Linked DNA regions of Homo sapiens. Each later gene encodes a partner of the first gene's protein in a complex. Each region holds a gene or a part of one and is shown on either strand. Other genes may lie near its edges.

Region 1 (11,893 bases):
GTTCCCGCCTTGTGCCCTGAGCTGCCAAGATAGGATCTGGCCAGTGAAAACCCTGGAATAACTTAACTGGAACAGTTGGATAAATAATTATCTTACTTGTTTTTATCAATCTTTCTTAAATGTATGTATAGATTACATTTATTTCAATGTTTAACATTAGAAGTGTTATTTCAGCGTTTACTATCAGAAGTGTTCTAAATAACCTATTTAGAAGTTTGTGAAATTTTTGTGACCAGAAATATGCTATAGGAACTCTTGTTTATTTCAATTAGCCTATGGTAAAAATGATTTAATTATACATCCTTTTGCTTGAAGTCACAGTTTCCAGGAACCTACGGATGACATTAAATGAGGACTTACTGTAGTTTAATAGATTGTAAAATAGTACTCACTGTGAGAATCAAATAATCCTATCTGTGAATGCACTTAAACAGTTCACTCTTTGTGAAGATAGGTATGATACCTTAAAATAGTAGGGAGAATGAATTTTGGTGCTTATGACTTCAAAAACTGCTGAAGCTACTAATTCTCTTTTTCTTTACTGCTTGTAACTGTTCATATTTAATACAACACTCAGAGAAATAAGGCATTTGGAATATTTCATTCTCATGTTTCTTACCTGAAAATTTATTTATATATACAATCTGTTTTTTTCTATCTAGAATGAAATCATAACCAAGTATCTAAAAACAGCTGGTTTTATGTATAACACTCCCGAAGATGAAGTAACAGCCTTGATTAATAACAGCTCTATTATCTGCTAGCATATCTAAACAGCATTTTTCCTTTCTTTTAAAATTCATGGATTCAAATTTAACACAAAGATTAAAAGTTCAAATCTAGGCTGAATGTGGTAGCTCATGCCTATAATTCCAGTGCTTTGGGAGGCCAAAGCGGGAGGACTGCTTGAGCCCAGGAGTTTGAGATCAGCCTGGACAACATGGTGAGACCCTGTTGGTACAAAAAGTAAATGAGCTGGGCACAGTGGCATATGCCTGTAGTCCAAGAGGCTACTCAGAAGGGTAAGGTGGGAGGATTGCTTGAGCCGGGGAAATCAAGGTTGCAGTGATCTGTGATCACGCCACTGTTCCCTAGCCTGAGTGACAGAGCCTGATCCTGTCACGATTTTTTTAAAAAGTTTAAATCTATGCAAAAACACATCATGATATAGGGAGGTACCAAAGGTCTCCTAATTCTACAGATGCCATTTAGTTACAGAATTAATTTGAAAGTGCTACGTGATGGGTTAAGGTGTTGTTTGAGTTTGTTTTGGTTTATTTTAGAAGAAGGAATTCAAAAATATGTTTCACTTAATTTGTAAAAAGGGCATTCAGCTGGGCATGGTGGCTCATGCCTGTAATCCCAGCACTTTGAGAGGCCAAGGCGGGTGGATCACTTGAAATCAGGAGTTCAAGACCAGCCTGGCCAACATGTTTAGCAGAAACCCTGTCTGTACTATAGATACAAAAATTAGCTGGGCACCTGTAATCCCAGCTACTTGGGAGGCTGAGGCAGGAGAATCGCTTGAACCCAGGAGGCGGAGGTTGCAGTGAGCCAAGATTGCGCCACTGCACTCCAGCCTGGGCGACAGAGTAACACTATGTCAAAAAAAAAAAAAAAAAAAAAAAAAAGAGGCATTCAATCTAAAGGGAATGCAGAAAATCTTTAAGGCAACCTTATGCAATTATTCCATTAAATGAAAATAACTATGGAATAACTTGACTTCCTGCTTAATTCTACCCTATTACCCTCGACTGTGATGCCACCATTAAAAAACAAAAATTTATGTGGCCTATTCAGGACCTGTGTTAATAGTGTTTGATATGTGAGTTTATAAAGATCAATGAATCAACTGACAGGACTCTTCTGGTGAACTGACATTAGAGATATCTCTACAACATTCAATTTTATCTTAAAATAACTGATCCTACTACTAGTCTTACAATAAATAGCAGTACTTAATAATACATTAAACATCATTATGAAGTAAAGCTTAATTTTTCTCAATATATTACTTTCTTCAAAGTAGTCTAAGTGATATGTGTTTGTAGATATGTAAATTAAATATTTAACATCATCCAGGGACTTATGAAGAAATTTGCCATACAACGAGAGGGGAGAAAAAACATCAAACCTGAATCTGACCAAGTTCTAGATAAAACTTACAGAATTCCAACTTACAGGAAATACAGAGGATAGAGGAACATGTTAAACTACACCATAGAGACTCAGTATACTATTTTTTTTTTTTTTTTTGAGATGGAGTCTCACTCTGTCACCCAGGCTGGAGTGCAGTGGCGCGATCTTGGCTCACTGCAACCTCCGCCTCCAAGGTTCAAGCAATTCTCGTGCCTCAGCCTCCCGAACAGCCGGGACTACAGGTGTACGCCACCACACCTGGATTTTTGTATTTTTAGTAGAGACGGGGTTTCACCATGTTGTCCAGGCTGGTCTCGAACTCCTGACCTCAGGTAATCTGCCCGGCTTGGCCTCCCAAAGTGCTGGGATTACAGGCATGAGCCACTATACCAGGCTGGATTCGGCATACTATTTTGTTTACTTTTGTATATTTTTGAAATTCTCCATGATAAAAAGCTAAAAAGAATACACAGGAAATTTTCCACTGCAAACTGTGTGTTGGGAGTTCTCTGAGAGGGGAGCATGTTTTCATGTTAAAATGGTAGCACCTGGGCTTATCAGCCACCCTACTAAAAGAAAACCTTTTGGGGCTGGCACCCAGAAATACTCATTTTCAACAAGCTTCCTCAGTGATTCTTATGTTCATGAAAATTGGAAAAACACATTAAAATGAAGTGATTACTTTCTTAAACAATCATTCTTGAATTAATCTGTTTTGTAAATTTACATTTTAGAGTGTTAATTTCCTTGATGCGATCCAAAGTTTCTAACACTCTCTTATCATTGAAAGAATGTTTTAAGTATTCCTGTACAACTCATTGTATGGGAACTAAAATTGAGCACCAACTATTTGTTAGGCAGCATGCTACCTGTGCTATCTTTATTTCAGGGACTGCAGTAATCCTTTAAAGTAGCTATCATCTCTATTTTACATCCAAGAAAATTGAGGCTCAGAAATTTGAGTAATTTGCCCAAAGTTACAAATCCACTAAAGGAATATATAAGATCTGCACACAGGTCTTTTGATTCTAAAGACCATACGTACTCTACCGTGGTGTTACAGAAATAAACTACATCCAATGTTCCAGGGAAGATTCCCATGGTAATTTAGCCTAGTGGTAAAGCACATGGGCTTTAAAGCTAGAGAGACTCAGAGACAAGTCCCAATTTTCTCTTTTTTTGGTAAAATATGGAGGTAAAAGTCTATCAGATAGGAGTCTTTTGAGGATTAAATCATAACATGCACATAACTTGTCTAACATTTTAAGTGTTTAATAAATGTTAGTTGTCATCACTGTTATTTCAGGATTGCCTTAACTTTGAGAGTTCACTTTGTATCAGAGCAACTTGGGTGGAATTTCAGAGATTATTTGTTCAGATCCCATTTCCAGACCTATCTATCTTTCAAACATACAAGAGCAGAATATGGAAATTCCCAAATCTACTGGCATTTAATTACTCCCACTGTCAAAAAGTTTTCCCTGTATTTAATTGAATTTTCTTCCTGGTAATAAAGTTTTCCCCATTTCATTTGTCTTTAGAGAAGATGGAGAACAAGCAGAGAGTCTTTCCTTTTTCTAATAATCCTACATATTAATTGGGCCAAGCTCTCTCTCTCTTTCATACCAAGCACTCTAAGTTAGCATTTAAAAAAACAAGCCAGCGCACCCCTATGTCATGGTCATATAGTGGGCCTGGTTTGAACATGATTATATACTCATTCTTGATTTCCCAGCTCGGGTTTGAATCCCATCTTTGCGATTTTCTAGTTGCATGACTTGAATAAATTCTCGGACTTACCTGTGCTTCATTTTTCTCATCTGTTAAATGTGGAACACCTACCTTATAGGGCTGTTGTGAAAAGTACGCAAATAAATATAGGGTAAAGATCTAAGAACATGTGCCTGACACATATTAAATGTTCAATAAATGTCAGTAGTTATTATATATTGATGCTTTTTAAGATTAGCTACATTCAATACTCTATTAAATTCTGTGACCCAAAACACAAGTGGCAGGTAGTCTAACAAAACTGACATAATTCTTCACGACTCCAACCTTTCACTGCAGAAACTCCTTTTGTGGGCTTCCCACACTGTAGGAGCTGCCAGGGTGGAGGGGTTAATTTCATTTAGGAAGCTCTCCTTTTCCAAGAGTACATCACTCACAGTGTCCCATACACCCCATCAAGATACCTTTTCTATTATACCTTCATCCCCTACTTTCAAGAAACCAGTTTTCAACATTCTAAAACCTAAACCGATGCTTAAAACCTTGTTCATTTCACAGAAATCAATAACAGATAACTATGAGGCCTGCAAGAGTATATTATTTTTCTGGCTGCTATTTACTGCGTGTTTAAAGTGTACTTTGCATACGCTATATAATTTAATTCTCACAACAATCCTATGTAGTCAAATACAATCACTGTCAAGAAACTAACAAAAAGTCAGGTAACTGAACTTGGAGATTATGTTTGCATTTAAAGAGCGAAGGGTTCTAACTCTGACAGGCCAGATTCTAATTACAGGCACTACTTACTACTTTAAAGAATCCAGGAAATAACTTGCCTCAACACCTCTCTTAAAAACTTGAGCCCTGAGAAGTGAGGAACTGGATTTGCTATACAAGGAAAGAAAGGAATGGTGGCTTCTCTCGGCCGGAGCGGAAGCGCCTGCCAGTCAACCTCGGGGGTCGGCGACCGTCGCGTGGAACAGAGAGGGGCGCCAGCGACGCTTTCCCGCGTCCACGACTGGGGTGGGCAACAGGGCAGGGACAGGGCCGCCCACCTCCCCAGGCGCGCAGCGAGGCCAACTCACCTGCGTGGCCGCCAGCCGCGCCCGCACCTCTCGCATTACGAACGGCTCCAGGCCGCGACCCGCAGTGCAGAAGAATCGGGCGCCAGCCTCAGGCCCGGACCCTGGCTCTCCACGCGCCTCCGACATGGCGGCTCAGGCGCGCCCTCGCGCCTTCGGGTCACGTGGCCTCGGGCGCGAGCGGCTCGCTCCTGGAGGCGGCGCGCAGGGGCGTGTGATGCCAAAGGGGAGAGGGAGAGGGAGAGGGAGAGGGGGAGGGGGAGAGGGAGGGGGAAGGAGAGGGTGAGAGAGACGGAGAGCCTGGGAGGGTCGCATCAGCCCTCTGTGGCCCCTATGGGTCTTCCTGGTTGACCATCTGTCCCCTCCTTGATTAGGCACCAGAATGGGTTAGAATCACAGGTGGAAGGGTTAGAATTGATAATTCAGTCCAGTTGCCTTATTTTGTAGATTGAGGAAATTAATGCCCAGAGAGGTCAAGAGACAGCGAGTTAGCAGCACAGCTGAGGCTGGAGCCTAGATTTCTCCCTATCTAACATAATGCCTTTTCCTCCATTCCTCCCAACTCCGTCCTCTTCCTGTCCTTCATTCCTCTCCTCTACTCTTCTCATAGAAGGAGCCCTGGTCTGTTTTCACAAAGAATCGGGCCAAACGTTGGAATCTCCAGGACGGAGAGCAGAAGTTCCTGTTCTCTAACAAACGTCTGCGTTCTGAAACAGCTCATATTTCTTGCACTACTTAGTTAACCATCCAGCCATAGATGAATCAATGTGCCATCTAGTTTTGGGCACCTGATTTGAATGGTTCTCCTAACGGTATTTGAAGGCATTTTTCTAAACTCTGAATTTTAAAATGGAAATGAAAATATTACTTGGGAAGCATAGACAGAATCCATGTTACAAGATAAACAGCGTGAAATTAGCTCTGTAGCTGTATATTGAGTCAGTTATACAGAAATGATAAATGCATGTGTGTCTCTGACAAGGGGCTGTCCTGTGCTTCAGAATGGGATGTTAAGGTGAAGAACTGATACTCCCTCACCTCCCCCGACACTCCCACACACACCCCCGCCCCCACCCAGCTCATGCTCTACTGGGCCGTACAGTAAAAATTCTTCATGGAGTCACATAACATGAGCTTTTCCAAGGTTCAGTCCTAAGACTCTTCTGATGCTGCTTTTTATTTTTTATTTTTTGCGACAGGGTCTCCCTCTGTCGCCCAGGCTGGAGCGCAGTGACGTGATCTTGGCTCACTGCAGCCTCCACCTCCTGAGCTCCAGTAATCCTCCCACCTCAGCCTGTCCAGTAGCTGGGACCACAGGCAAGCCCCACCACACCGGGCTAATTTTTGTATTTTTTGTAGAGAAGGGGTTTCACCATGTTGGCCAGGCTGGTCTCGAACTCCTGAGATCAAGCGATCCGCCTGCCTCGGCCTCCCAAAGTGCTGGGATTACAGGCACCCAGCCCTCACACACTACCGTTTTGATGAATTCTTTTCTTGCCCTCAGACACATGTTTTCCTTTTCTGGGCTACTGCCGTAGTTCATTTTAACTTCTCTATACTTTGGGGTTCTGACTGTCAAGTCTGTCTGGGGAGGACAGGAACCCTCTTTAGTTCTCTCTACATTCTGTGCCCAAGATGTTAAGTATGCAGATAGGATGCATTCCATTCAGTTCAACAAATACTGAACACCTATTCTCCGCCAGTCACCACCCTGTCTTGAGGATTCAAAGATGGGTAAGCAAGGGTTTGGACTTCAAGGGCTTAGAGGATGGTGAAGTTGAATGACTCACTGAGGACATACCCGGGAAGCTATGACAGCACCGACAAAAAGGAGGCAGGGAGGGCTTCCTGGACAAAATCGCTCTTGAGTCCAGCATGAAGGATGTGTAAGAGGGAGAAGCAGCAGATGAAAATGAGACGGCGTGTGGGGGGTGGGGAACAGGAAAGCCACGATAGCGGTTAAGTGTTATTAGAGCATAAAGTATATGAGTGGAGTAGATAGAGATGCGGTAGAGCGGTGGGTAGGGGCCCAGTTATGTCAGTACAACCAAAGGCAGCTGAAAAAATGAAATGACCTATTCAGTCCAGCACCGACCAGCAGTGTGCTGGCCTGGGTGAAACCACAGCTGAGCTGAGGCTGCAGTTTTGCAGAGCCAATCGATCTTCCCCTTACTTTCTCCTCTTTCTTCTGATGTCTTTTCCCCTCCAGGAGCCTTTGGTCAGCAAGGTCGGGGCTACTCTTGTTTCATATGTGGGAGTCATGTGCATTTGTTCCTTTTGAACTGTGCTGCAGTATGTCAGCTGTACCAATGCCCTTCACAAAATGCTTGCAGTGCGATGGAATGGGGGAGTTCTGCCTCTTTAGGGAGAAATTAGTTTCGTTTTCTGGTAAGAGAGTTGCCTGGAATTCTCTCCCCCATTACTCAGGTACTCTTTTCTCCATCATCTCTTCTTCTTTAAAAAAGTCTCTTCTGAAAACTATGGATCCCTATAGACAAATTTAGCATATCCAGCTGCAATTTACTGTTCGAATATTACATATTTCAACATGTAGGAAATTGGAAGTCGGCAGGAACAATTTTAGAATGGACAGACTTTTAAGTGGAGGTGTTTTAAGAATTTAGGACAAGAATATTTGCTTTGAGATAGCTCCCTATTTTGGTGCCACTGGCAATTCTTTTAGTTCTTAAAGGTGTATGATGTATATACTTATATATTAAAATGCAAGTGCTATAGATTGTGAAATCCTTGAGGATGGGATGACTTCATCTGGGCATCTGTAGCGAGAACACTGGCTTGCCTGTGGTGGCCTCTCAAATGTATGCCAATAAAAAGTAACTAAATGAAAGGGCAACTAAGGAGGCCCCTCTCAGGAGAATTGCTGTAACTGCCCTATCAGCAGGGGCCTTTGCAAGCAGGATACAGGAATAAGGGCAATGTAGTGAGGCCAATGAAGTAGAGAAGTGAGAGCACAAAGGGGATAGGAGTACCTCCAAAATAAACTTCTTCACAACTTTCCTTTCTAGTTCCTCTCTTCCTCACTATCTCTTCTTCCTCCCTATACACTTTATAAATAATGTTTCTTACCCAGGAATACTCCTCAGAATTACCTGAGAAGTCACCAGTGTCAAGCTTGCCACCCCACTCTCCTGTATTCCAGTACAGTTGAGTAGGGTTGGTGACAAGCCTTGGCCTCTTCTCTCCATGAGATGAAGAACCGTTGCTAGATGCCAAGCAATTCAAGTGCTAACGTCTTCAAAATGCCCACTACTTCCCTTCTCCCAGGCCTCTGCTTATATGGTTCCCTTTGGCTAGAGCGCTCTTCTCTTCCTTTCTTTCTTTTTCTTTGAGGATAAGCTAGAATGCCACATCTTCTCTGGTGTACTTTCCTGCCTTTCTTGTACCCTTTTATGCAATATTTTATACCTTTATCATTCATTTATTCATTCATAAATATTTGTTGAGTTTGTGGCAAATGTGCCAGTTAAATGTTCCAGCCTTTGAGAAACTTTTAAATCAATGGGAGGTAATGGTGACAGGGCTGAATTGCTGAGATGGGCATATAAAGGATGACAATACAGTGTCATATATGGGAATAAAATGAAAGCAACTGGGCCCAGCAACGGTAGCCACTTAATGAAGTTGAATGAATGAGCTTATTCTGAAGCTGAGTAAGCCTTTGTCATGGTTTTGGTTTCTTATCTCCCTTTGAGCACCATATTAGCCCATTCTTGTACTGCTATAAAGAAATGCCTGAGACTGGGTAATCTATAAAGAAAAGAGTTTTAATTGGCCCACTGTTCCGCAGGCTCAACAGGAAGCATGGCTAGGGAGGCCTCAGGAAACTTACATTCATGGGGACAGGGGAAGCAGGCTTCTCTTAGATGGCTGGAGCAGGAGGAAGAGAGAGGATGGGGAGGTGCTGCACACTTTTAAGTAACCAGATCTCATCTCACTCACTGTCGTGAGACCAGCAAGGGGGAACTCCGCCCCCATGATTCAATCACCTCCCACCAGGCCCGTCCTCCAACACTGGGGATTACAATTCGATATGAGATTTGGGCAGGGACACAAATCCAAACCATATCTCTGCCAAGTCTGGGGCATCATCCTTCTGATGGGCCCCACCCACCTCCACAGGTGGAGCCTTTTTGCTAACCAGGGCATAGTCATGTGATCTAGACATTACCAGTGAGCCTCACGTGACTCAGAAATGAGCAATGTGGGGGAAAAGGCTCTTTCCACAATTCATTTTACTTCCTGGGGTATTGTTGGGGTGTCTGACCTTCAGGAACAGCTTCATGAACAGGATTGAGTTCCTGAGGCAGAAGTGGAACTGCTGGGGGTGGTGGTAGTAGTGGCAGCAGTTAGTTTTCTGGTCAGGCCAGTTTCTGAAAGCTTAGCTTCCAGATTGGTTTTCCAGACTGCCCAACAAATGAGTCATACACACACACACACACACACACACACACACACACACACATACACACACACACACACGCACGCTTTACTTTGCTTAATCAGTTAAAGTTAGCATCTATTTCTTGCAACAAGGAATCTTGATTGATACAGGCATCCACTCTTCCCAGGTAGGAGCAGCTAGCTTGGTTTGCTTCTCTCCCTGTGATTTGTATTAGCTTGGTCTCTTCCCCCATTCATTTGTGAGCATTGCACTGTGGAGGTATGATGAACTCCTGCCACGTAGCCCCACAGAGTAACTTGGAAAGAGTAGGATTTTATAAATTTTATGGAATTCAATTGTGTTATGGTATTGTGGTAAAACCACAGATACAGACACATGAATCTGTCAGACAGACACATTCCAACCAAGTCAGTATAGATTGTGAAAAAGAGAATCTACATATTTTTACGACTGCAAGTGCAAGCCATTTGGGAAAAAACTATTGGTCACATACTGATCCTTTAAACCACTTAAGTACACACAATAATCATCTTGAATGGTGCTTCTTTGAACATACAATCAAAAGGAGAAAATTCAGCAGAACATTTCATGGTATATGTAAATACTGTCTTTAAAACAGTATTTGCTAATTAGTGTTTATAGCACTAGTTTAAATGTAGAATCAAAATTCAAAAGATACAATCTTTATGCTCTGATCTGGAGAGATAATTCTTTTTTTATATGTTATTTTTGCTTCAGATCTATAGTGCATGAAATTACTTTGATATACAAGTATAGTTGACTATTTCCAATGTCTTTTCTGAAAAGTGTGGCATGTATTTAATGCATATTTCAAGACATGAGGCTGTTTGATGTGATTTTGTTTAAATATATTTTGAGCTCATAAAACTCAAAATATAGACCTAATGATGCCCCAGTTGGAAGAGAGTATGGATATTATTTCTTGGATATATATGTTGAATGAATGAATGACTATATCTGCAATTTTCTTCAATTTACTTGAATCAACTGTAGTGACTAAATAAAGCCATTTTCTTTTTGCAGTTATGTTCACCTCCCTCAGACTATTGTTTTAATATTCCTTTTCTCTTGTTGCATTCATGATAATATTGACTATGAATTATTATTTTCCTTAGAGGTTTGCTATTACCTAACTTTTTCTATTTCTTGGTACAAAGAAAGCCCCAGAAATGTCCAACATTAGCTAGGATACCTATGTTTTGATATTTATCCTTTTCATTTTCCTGTATGTCTTATTCCATTTTAGTAGATGGTCATTTATTTTGTGTATTTTCTTAGTGGTAACTGAAAAAAATAATTCCCTCAAAACTCAAGCAGATGTGATCTGCAAATAAAAACAACAAAGGGTTAGCTTTTATTTTCTCAAAAACACAAATAGAGTACCTTACTTCATTATGAATGGTATTTGGCAGAATAAAATCTGAAGAGTTTATTAGAACATTGGCTTTATTCAGTCAGTATTGCTCCTGTCGTTGGCATGAAGGAAGAGTAGACTATGGAACAAGCAGACTTACTTATTACATATTTGTCTTTTTATATTTTTCTTTTTGTTGAAGAGTGATAATTACTTGCTGCCCATGGATATCTTGCATGATTTTGAAAAATGGATTTTAGCACCGTTGAAAAAGTGTTCTCTGTTATATCTACACATAATCAGGCCTATCCTCTAATGATTTTCTTTTAAAAAGTCTGAAATCTAATAATTAAAAATTTACTATTTATATTCATATTTAATGTTACAATTTTTGCAATGAGTATGAATTACTTGGCTAAACAGAAAAACAATACAGATACAAAACAAAAGCATACAACCTGAAGCACTGGCTTAGGCAATCATTTCATTCTCTCGTAAAACATCTTTGAAATAAGACATAATGCCTGAAATTATTTGATGCCAGTTGAGCTTTCAGATCACAGACAGGTAACAATATTTGCACCTTCAATCACTATGTATGGCTTTGGTGCTCTGTCTCTCTGATCAGTTTAGATGATATGGAACTTCTGTCTCATAAACTTCGAAATCGAAATGTAGCCAGGTTAAGAAAAATAATTTTAAAAGCTGGTCCTGGAATTCATCTTAGGTACAAAATAGTCTGTTTACGAAAATTTTTTGATGGAGTTTAGTGAGGCTCTGAAGTCATAAACAGAGAAATACAGAGATAATTAAACTGTTCTGCGTAAGAAGTCAAAAGGAGGTAGGAAATACCCTAACGGGGGGGAAAGATCAGATAATGGGGAACCTGTGGAACAGCATCGTGCAAAGCTGAGACCAGTGAGGATGAGCTGGCCGTAAGAGACTCGCTGTGGGGTGTTGGCTGAGAACTTCTAAGAAGGATGTTCAGTGCTCAAATTTGTTTCTGGCACTGCCAGGTTAAACCATCTTTAGTGGTCCAAACTTTCAGTAAAATAAACAAACAAAACACAGCCATTTGCTTCAAATAGTAGGAGTGAAAGTACCAGGGTGATGCACTCAAAGTAAGGTGCTGTGATAAGG
Region 2 (6,597 bases), on another chromosome or scaffold:
AGTGGTGCCTCTCAGTCAGCCAATCAACAAATCCTCGTTTGGCTCTTCCTTAGGCCCCATCCAGCAGTGCTCAAGATACGGGGAGTGCCCTTGCCAGAGATAGCCCAGGCCAACACCACATTCCTCTCTTCTTGCAGACTCTGTGCACATCGAAGATGCCGAGGCTGTGGAGCAGCTGCGAGAAGCTCTGCACGAGGCCCTGCTGGAGTATGAAGCCGGCCGGGCTGGCCCCGGAGGGGGTGCTGAGCGGCGGCGGGCGGGCAGGCTGCTGCTCACGCTACCGCTCCTCCGCCAGACAGCGGGCAAAGTGCTGGCCCATTTCTATGGGGTGAAGCTGGAGGGCAAGGTGCCCATGCACAAGCTGTTCTTGGAGATGCTCGAGGCCATGATGGACTGAGGCAAGGGGTGGGACTGGTGGGGGTTCTGGCAGGACCTGCCTAGCATGGGGTCAGCCCCAAGGGCTGGGGCGGAGCTGGGGTCTGGGCAGTGCCACAGCCTGCTGGCAGGGCCAGGGCAATGCCATCAGCCCCTGGGAACAGGCCCCACGCCCTCTCCTCCCCCTCCTAGGGGGTGTCAGAAGCTGGGAACGTGTGTCCAGGCTCTGGGCACAGTGCTGCCCCTTGCAAGCCATAACGTGCCCCCAGAGTGTAGGGGGCCTTGCGGAAGCCATAGGGGGCTGCACGGGATGCGTGGGAGGCAGAAACCTATCTCAGGGAGGGAAGGGGATGGAGGCCAGAGTCTCCCAGTGGGTGATGCTTTTGCTGCTGCTTAATCCTACCCCCTCTTCAAAGCAGAGTGGGACTTGGAGAGCAAAGGCCCATGCCCCCTTCGCTCCTCCTCTCATCATTTGCATTGGGCATTAGTGTCCCCCCTTGAAGCAATAACTCCAAGCAGACTCCAGCCCCTGGACCCCTGGGGTGGCCAGGGCTTCCCCATCAGCTCCCAACGAGCCTCCTCAGGGGGTAGGAGAGCACTGCCTCTATGCCCTGCAGAGCAATAACACTATATTTATTTTTGGGTTTGGCCAGGGAGGCGCAGGGACATGGGGCAAGCCAGGGCCCAGAGCCCTTGGCTGTACAGAGACTCTATTTTAATGTATATTTGCTGCAAAGAGAAACCGCTTTTGGTTTTAAACCTTTAATGAGAAAAAAATATATAATACCGAGCTCAAAAACACTGTGTTTGGTGTCATTGGGTCAAGGGTTGGGGATACACACGGCAGAATTCGGAAACAGGGTATAGATCAACAAAAATACACAGTCATAACAAGAAAAACTGGCGCCTGGCACAATCAACTCTCAGTTTCCTCTTCACTCAGCAGCATGTTGGGGATCCCGCGGCTGATGGGGAACATACGTCCAGATTCCGGGCACTGCAGGGTGCCCTCTATCACTTCCACCTGCGGGCAGGGAGGGACAGAGCTGAGCACTGGCAGCCTCAGTGCGGGAGGCAGGTGGCCCGGGAAGCAAGTGATGGGCCGCTTCTCACCTCCAGCAGCAGGTGGTGCATGGTCCTCAGAAACTCCTCATTCTCCTCATATCCCTCAACCGGCCCTTTCGGCACCTGGATCAGACGCAACTGTGGGCAAGAGGCCAAAATTATCTCCGGGCATCCCGAACTCCCGCCTCAGCCCGGCTGAGGTGTGCCCGCCCCGCATTCCCCGGGATATGCTGGGGCGGGGTAAGGATCCTCACGTTATCGGCCGCCTCCAGGAACGCCGACCACTCCACTTTAGGTATCATACGCGCCACGAAGTTGGGGTTGAATTCCACAGGGCAGATACGGACCTCGGTGGCCTGCAGGGCGGAGGAGTTTAGGCAAGCACTGGACCCCGGCCCACCATCCCGCCCGAAAAGGGAAGACTGCCGCCGGCGGGTACCTGGAGGCGCAGGGGGAAGCCACGGGACCCCACCCCCCGCACATGCGAGCTCAGCAGATTGTGGGTAAGCAGTTTCATGTCGCCGCACAAACTCTCGCCAGGCCGGAACCGGAAAAAGGTCGTCCTCCGCTGCCTCACTTCCGGGGATGCTCCTCTCGATGCTATTGGATAGCCAGGAGAACCGGAAGTGGCGAACTTGCTGGAACTTCTCGTGTTTGTGGGAGCTGAGGTAGGTAGGTGAAAGACCTGTCGGGTCACGCGCCGCTACCGGAAGCGTCTCAGCAGGAGGTTCCTACGGCGCACGCCCAGCTTTTTTTTGCCACAAATTCTTCGTAAGATGCAAATCATATGCAAAATAGCTGCAATGCAGGAGCTCTCGTTGAATGCAAAATAAACACATTTTACTCCTACACAGGCGCCTAACACCGTCGTCCTCTGTATCCCACTTTCGGTTAAGGGGCAGAAATACCGCCCTATCTGTAAATTAGGCCCATGGAAGCCGAGCCGCACCTCATTCCTATATGCAAATTAGCTGCTCCAGTGCCGAAAGCTCCGCCCCATTTGTAGTTGCGTCGGCTGTCCAGCACCCAGTGCAAACGAGGCGTGGGTCCCGGAAGCTCTGTTCTGCGGGTGGCCGCTCGCGCCTGCGCAGTGGAGGCGGCCCAGGCCCGCCTTCCGCAGGGTGTCGCCGCTGTGCCGCTAGCGGTGCCCCGCCTGCTGCGGTGGCACCAGCCAGGAGGCGGAGTGGAAGTGGCCGTGGGGCGGGTATGGGACTAGCTGGCGTGTGCGCCCTGAGACGCTCAGCGGGCTATATACTCGTCGGTGGGGCCGGCGGTCAGTCTGCGGCAGCGGCAGCAAGACGGTACAGTGAAGGAGAGTGGGCGTCTGGCGGGGTCCGCAGTTTCAGCAGAGCCGCTGCAGCCATGGCCCCAATCAAGGTGACCGCTGGCCCGGCCGGGCCTGACATCCCCCACTACCCCCATGGCAATCCCCGTCCCGCTAGTCTGAGAGTATCGCTTTATTTCCTGCCTGCCAGACCCCTCCCCTCCGCCCGCCCGGCTCATCCCTTCAGAAGGCCCTCGTGGCTGCCCACCTTTCTCGCCAATCGTGGGGGCCTCACCTCCCGGGACAGTCCCGAGGCATTGTGTTTTTTGTTTTTTGTTTTTTTTTGAGACGGAGTCTTTCTGTGTCGCCCAGGCTGGAGTGCAGTGACGCAATCTCTGCTCACTGCAGCCTCCGCCTCCCGGGTTCAAGCGATTCTACTGCCTCAGCCTCCTGAGTAGCTGGGACTACAGATGCGAGCCACCACGCCCAGCTATTGTATTTTTAGTAGAGACGGGATTTCACCCCGTTGTTCAGATTGGTCTCGAACTCCTGACCTCAGGTGAACCCCCCCCGCCCCCCCCCGCCTCGGCTTCCCGAAGTGCTAGGATTACAGGTGTGAGACACCACTCCCGGCCTGATTTCCCCTATCTTCTGAAACAGCTGTCCCTTAGCGCCCCCGCGGGGGCTTACCCCATCCCACTCCATGACCTCCCCTCCCCCCATGGCGAATTCCCACCTTTCTGTCTTTCACTCACTTCCTGGAACCGTCCCCAGGGCCTTGGACCTTCCCCCTTCTCCTCCCAAACCTTGTGAGACCCCATTCCCTTTCTACTTCATCCTGCTCTCAACCTTTGGGCTCCTCAGAGGCCCTCACCTCTGACTCTCTCTCCCTACCCACTCTGGTCCCATGAAGCCCTCAAGTACTCTGGGGATGGATCCTTCCCCCTTCAAAAGATTCCTTCTTTTGTTCTACACCTCCTGGGTGTAGGGGCCTGGACACCCTCCCCCAACGTTCCACCTGCCGCTGCCCTTCCTCTTCCTCCTCCTGAGGGTGGGACCCTCAGACCTGGCCAAGATCCTCTCCCTCCATGTTGTCAGGGACTCCTCCTCACCCCCAAATACAGCCCTCTAGCCCCTGTCCATTTTATTCCACTCCTTTCCTGTAACCTAGACAGCATGTTATGCAACCCTTTGCGACACATGGGGAAACCTTCCCTCCCTTTCTCTGTTGTCACCAATGGCCCCTTAAGAGGAGCAGGGCCACCTTGAAACTTGGAGGATATGGGGTAACCCAGTGGGAGCGGGCAGGGAGGGCCCTTGGAAACTGACAGGGCTGGAGTATCCTGCTGGGTTTCAGCCCCGGTTCCTGCAGGCACAGCTGCCAGGCTCTCTGTTCACCTTCCTGCCTCTGGTTTGCCCCGGCTCCCTCACCCCCCTTACCCTGGAGTCCTTCCTTCTAGGTGGGAGATGCCATCCCAGCAGTGGAGGTGTTTGAAGGGGAGCCAGGGAACAAGGTGAACCTGGCAGAGCTGTTCAAGGGCAAGAAGGGTGTGCTGTTTGGAGTTCCTGGGGCCTTCACCCCTGGATGTTCCAAGGTGAGGCCCTTCCCCTTCTGAAGATCAGGACCTGGGATCTTTTGTGTTGCTCTTAAGTCCTCCACATAGTCCTGATAGGACTCCTAAAAAGCATTTCAGTGCCATCACAAAACAAGTAGAGCTGGGTAGAGCTGGGCGCGGTGGCTCACGCCTGTAATCCCAGCACTTTGGGAGGCCAAGGCGGGTGGATCACGAGGTCAGGAGTTCAAAACCAGTCTGGCCAAGATGGTGAAACCCTGTCTCTACTAAAAATGCAAAAAAATCAGCCGGACATGGTGGCGGGCGCCTGTAATCCCAGGTACTGGGGAGGCTGAGGCAGAGAATTGCTTGAACCCAGGAGGCGTAGGTTGCAGTGAGTGGAGATCGTGCCTCTGCAGTCCAGCCTGGGTGAAAGAGCGAGACTCCGTCTCAAAATGAAAAAAAAAAAAAAGAAAACAAGTAGAGACTGCAAAAAGGGAACAGTACCAGGAATGTTGGAGAAAAACATACTACAATTAAATCCAACACCCCTGTTGGTCCTGCTAAATGACAGGCACTGTGGAAGGTGCTTGGGACTCAGATAAATAAGACATAGATCTGCCCATGGAAAGTTCACGTCTGGACCATAAGGCATTAGGTTTCATTCTGAGCTTCCTAGTGGCCAAGGCAAAAAGGAAATAGAATGGTTTAGACAGCTCTCATTGTCTGATCAAAGGTGTTGAGGCAGAGCACTGAGGAGGGCCTGGAGATAAAGGGTGGGCTGGGGGTCAGATGCAGTTATCCCTTTGCCGACCCTTTGTTCCCCTTCCTCAGACACACCTGCCAGGGTTTGTGGAGCAGGCTGAGGCTCTGAAGGCCAAGGGAGTCCAGGTGGTGGCCTGTCTGAGTGTTAATGATGCCTTTGTGACTGGCGAGTGGGGCCGAGCCCACAAGGCGGAAGGCAAGGTGAGGTGAGGGGCCTGCAGGGAGTCAGGACCAGGTAGGATATTCTTCTTGTGACCTTTACTTTCTCTGCAGGTTCGGCTCCTGGCTGATCCCACTGGGGCCTTTGGGAAGGTGAGTGTTCCCCTGACCGCCACAGGGACATGGCAGTGCGGGGAGCAGTGGGGGCCCTTAGCCTCTTCAAGGATTTCTGACACTTTTCTCTGTCTCTTCTTAGGAGACAGACTTATTACTAGATGATTCGCTGGTGTCCATCTTTGGGAATCGACGTCTCAAGAGGTAAAAGTGGAGAGTCCTCTGTGGAGAGAGTCCTCTGTGGGAGAGAGTCCTCTGTGGGAGAGAGTCCTCTGTGGAGAGGGTCCTCTGTGGGAAGAGTCGTCTGTGGGGGAGAGTCCTCTGTGTGGGAGAGTCGTCTGTGGGGAGAGTCCTGTGTGGGGAGAGTCCTCTGTGGAGAGAGTCCTCTGTGGGGGAGAGTCCTGTGTGGGGGAGAGTCCTCTGTGGGGAGAGTCCTCTGTGTGGAGAGAGTCCTGTGTGGGAGAGAGTCCTGTGTGGGGAGAGTCTTCTGTAGGGGAGAGTCCTCTGGGGAGAGAGTCCTGTGTGGGGGAGAGTTCTCTGTGGGGAGAGTCCTCTGTGTGGAGAGAGTCCTGTGTGGTGGTGAGTCCTCTGTGGGGGAGAGTCCTCTGTGGGGGGAGTCCTCTCTGGAGTTCTCTTGGGCCCCTGGCTGTTCACTGCCTGTCTCCATGCCCAGCCTCCAAGCCCAGGCTGATGCAGCTGGCTGGGCCCCTCTTTCCGGCAGGTTCTCCATGGTGGTACAGGATGGCATAGTGAAGGCCCTGAATGTGGAACCAGATGGCACAGGCCTCACCTGCAGCCTGGCACCCAATATCATCTCACAGCTCTGAGGCCCTGGGCCAGATTACTTCCTCCACCCCTCCCTATCTCACCTGCCCAGCCCTGTGCTGGGGCCCTGCAATTGGAATGTTGGCCAGATTTCTGCAATAAACACTTGTGGTTTGCGGCCATCTCCTTGGTTATGAATGGCTGTTTCGCTGAGCGCCAGGCATTCTGGCATCATCACAGACTGGGTGAGAATGGTGAGGGCGCAGATGGGCTGAAAGGGAGAATGTAGGGGGTCCTGCTTAATTAAGGGGGAGCTAGGGAGGGCCTTTCAAGGGAAGTTTTTTTTTTTTTTTTTTTTTGAGACAGTTTCACTCTGTCCCCTAGGCTGGAGTGCAGTGGCATGATCTCGGCTCACCACAACCTCTGCCTCCCAGGTTCAAGCGATTTTCCTGCCTCAGACTCCCCAGTAGATGGGATTACAGGTGTCTGCCACCACGCCCGACTAAGTTTTTGTATTTTTGGTAGAGACGGGGTTTC

What was found.
Region 2: THUMPD2 (region 1) and TRMT112 share a complex: the UniProt entries of both Homo sapiens proteins name them as parts of the heterodimeric THUMPD2-TRM112 methyltransferase complex.

The regions. Positions count from the first base shown.
Region 1 is NC_000002.12:39,774,156-39,786,048, forward strand, and holds the start of THUMPD2 (U6 snRNA (guanine-N(2))-methyltransferase THUMPD2), read right to left. Parts: upstream 5,104-11,893; 5' UTR 5,085-5,103; coding exon 4,959-5,084; intron 1-4,958. UniProt on the Homo sapiens protein: Catalytic subunit of the THUMPD2-TRM112 methyltransferase complex, that specifically mediates the S-adenosyl-L-methionine-dependent N(2)-methylation of guanosine nucleotides, most probably at position 72 (m2G72), in the U6snRNA of the major spliceosome.
Region 2 is NC_000011.10:64,315,570-64,322,166, forward strand, and holds TRMT112 (multifunctional methyltransferase subunit TRM112-like protein), read right to left. Parts: upstream 1,991-6,597; 5' UTR 1,958-1,990; coding exon 1,880-1,957; intron 1,797-1,879; coding exon 1,695-1,796; intron 1,579-1,694; coding exon 1,489-1,578; coding exon of another isoform or gene 1,438-1,488; exon of another isoform or gene 1,400-1,437; coding exon 1,292-1,399; 3' UTR 891-1,291; downstream 1-890. Other genes in the region: ESRRA (steroid hormone receptor ERR1), read left to right, coding at 138-397; PRDX5 (peroxiredoxin-5, mitochondrial isoform L precursor), read left to right, coding at 2,647-2,817, 4,165-4,299, 5,092-5,223, 5,296-5,334, 5,438-5,499, 6,017-6,122. UniProt on the Homo sapiens protein: Acts as an activator of both rRNA/tRNA and protein methyltransferases. Together with methyltransferase BUD23, methylates the N(7) position of a guanine in 18S rRNA.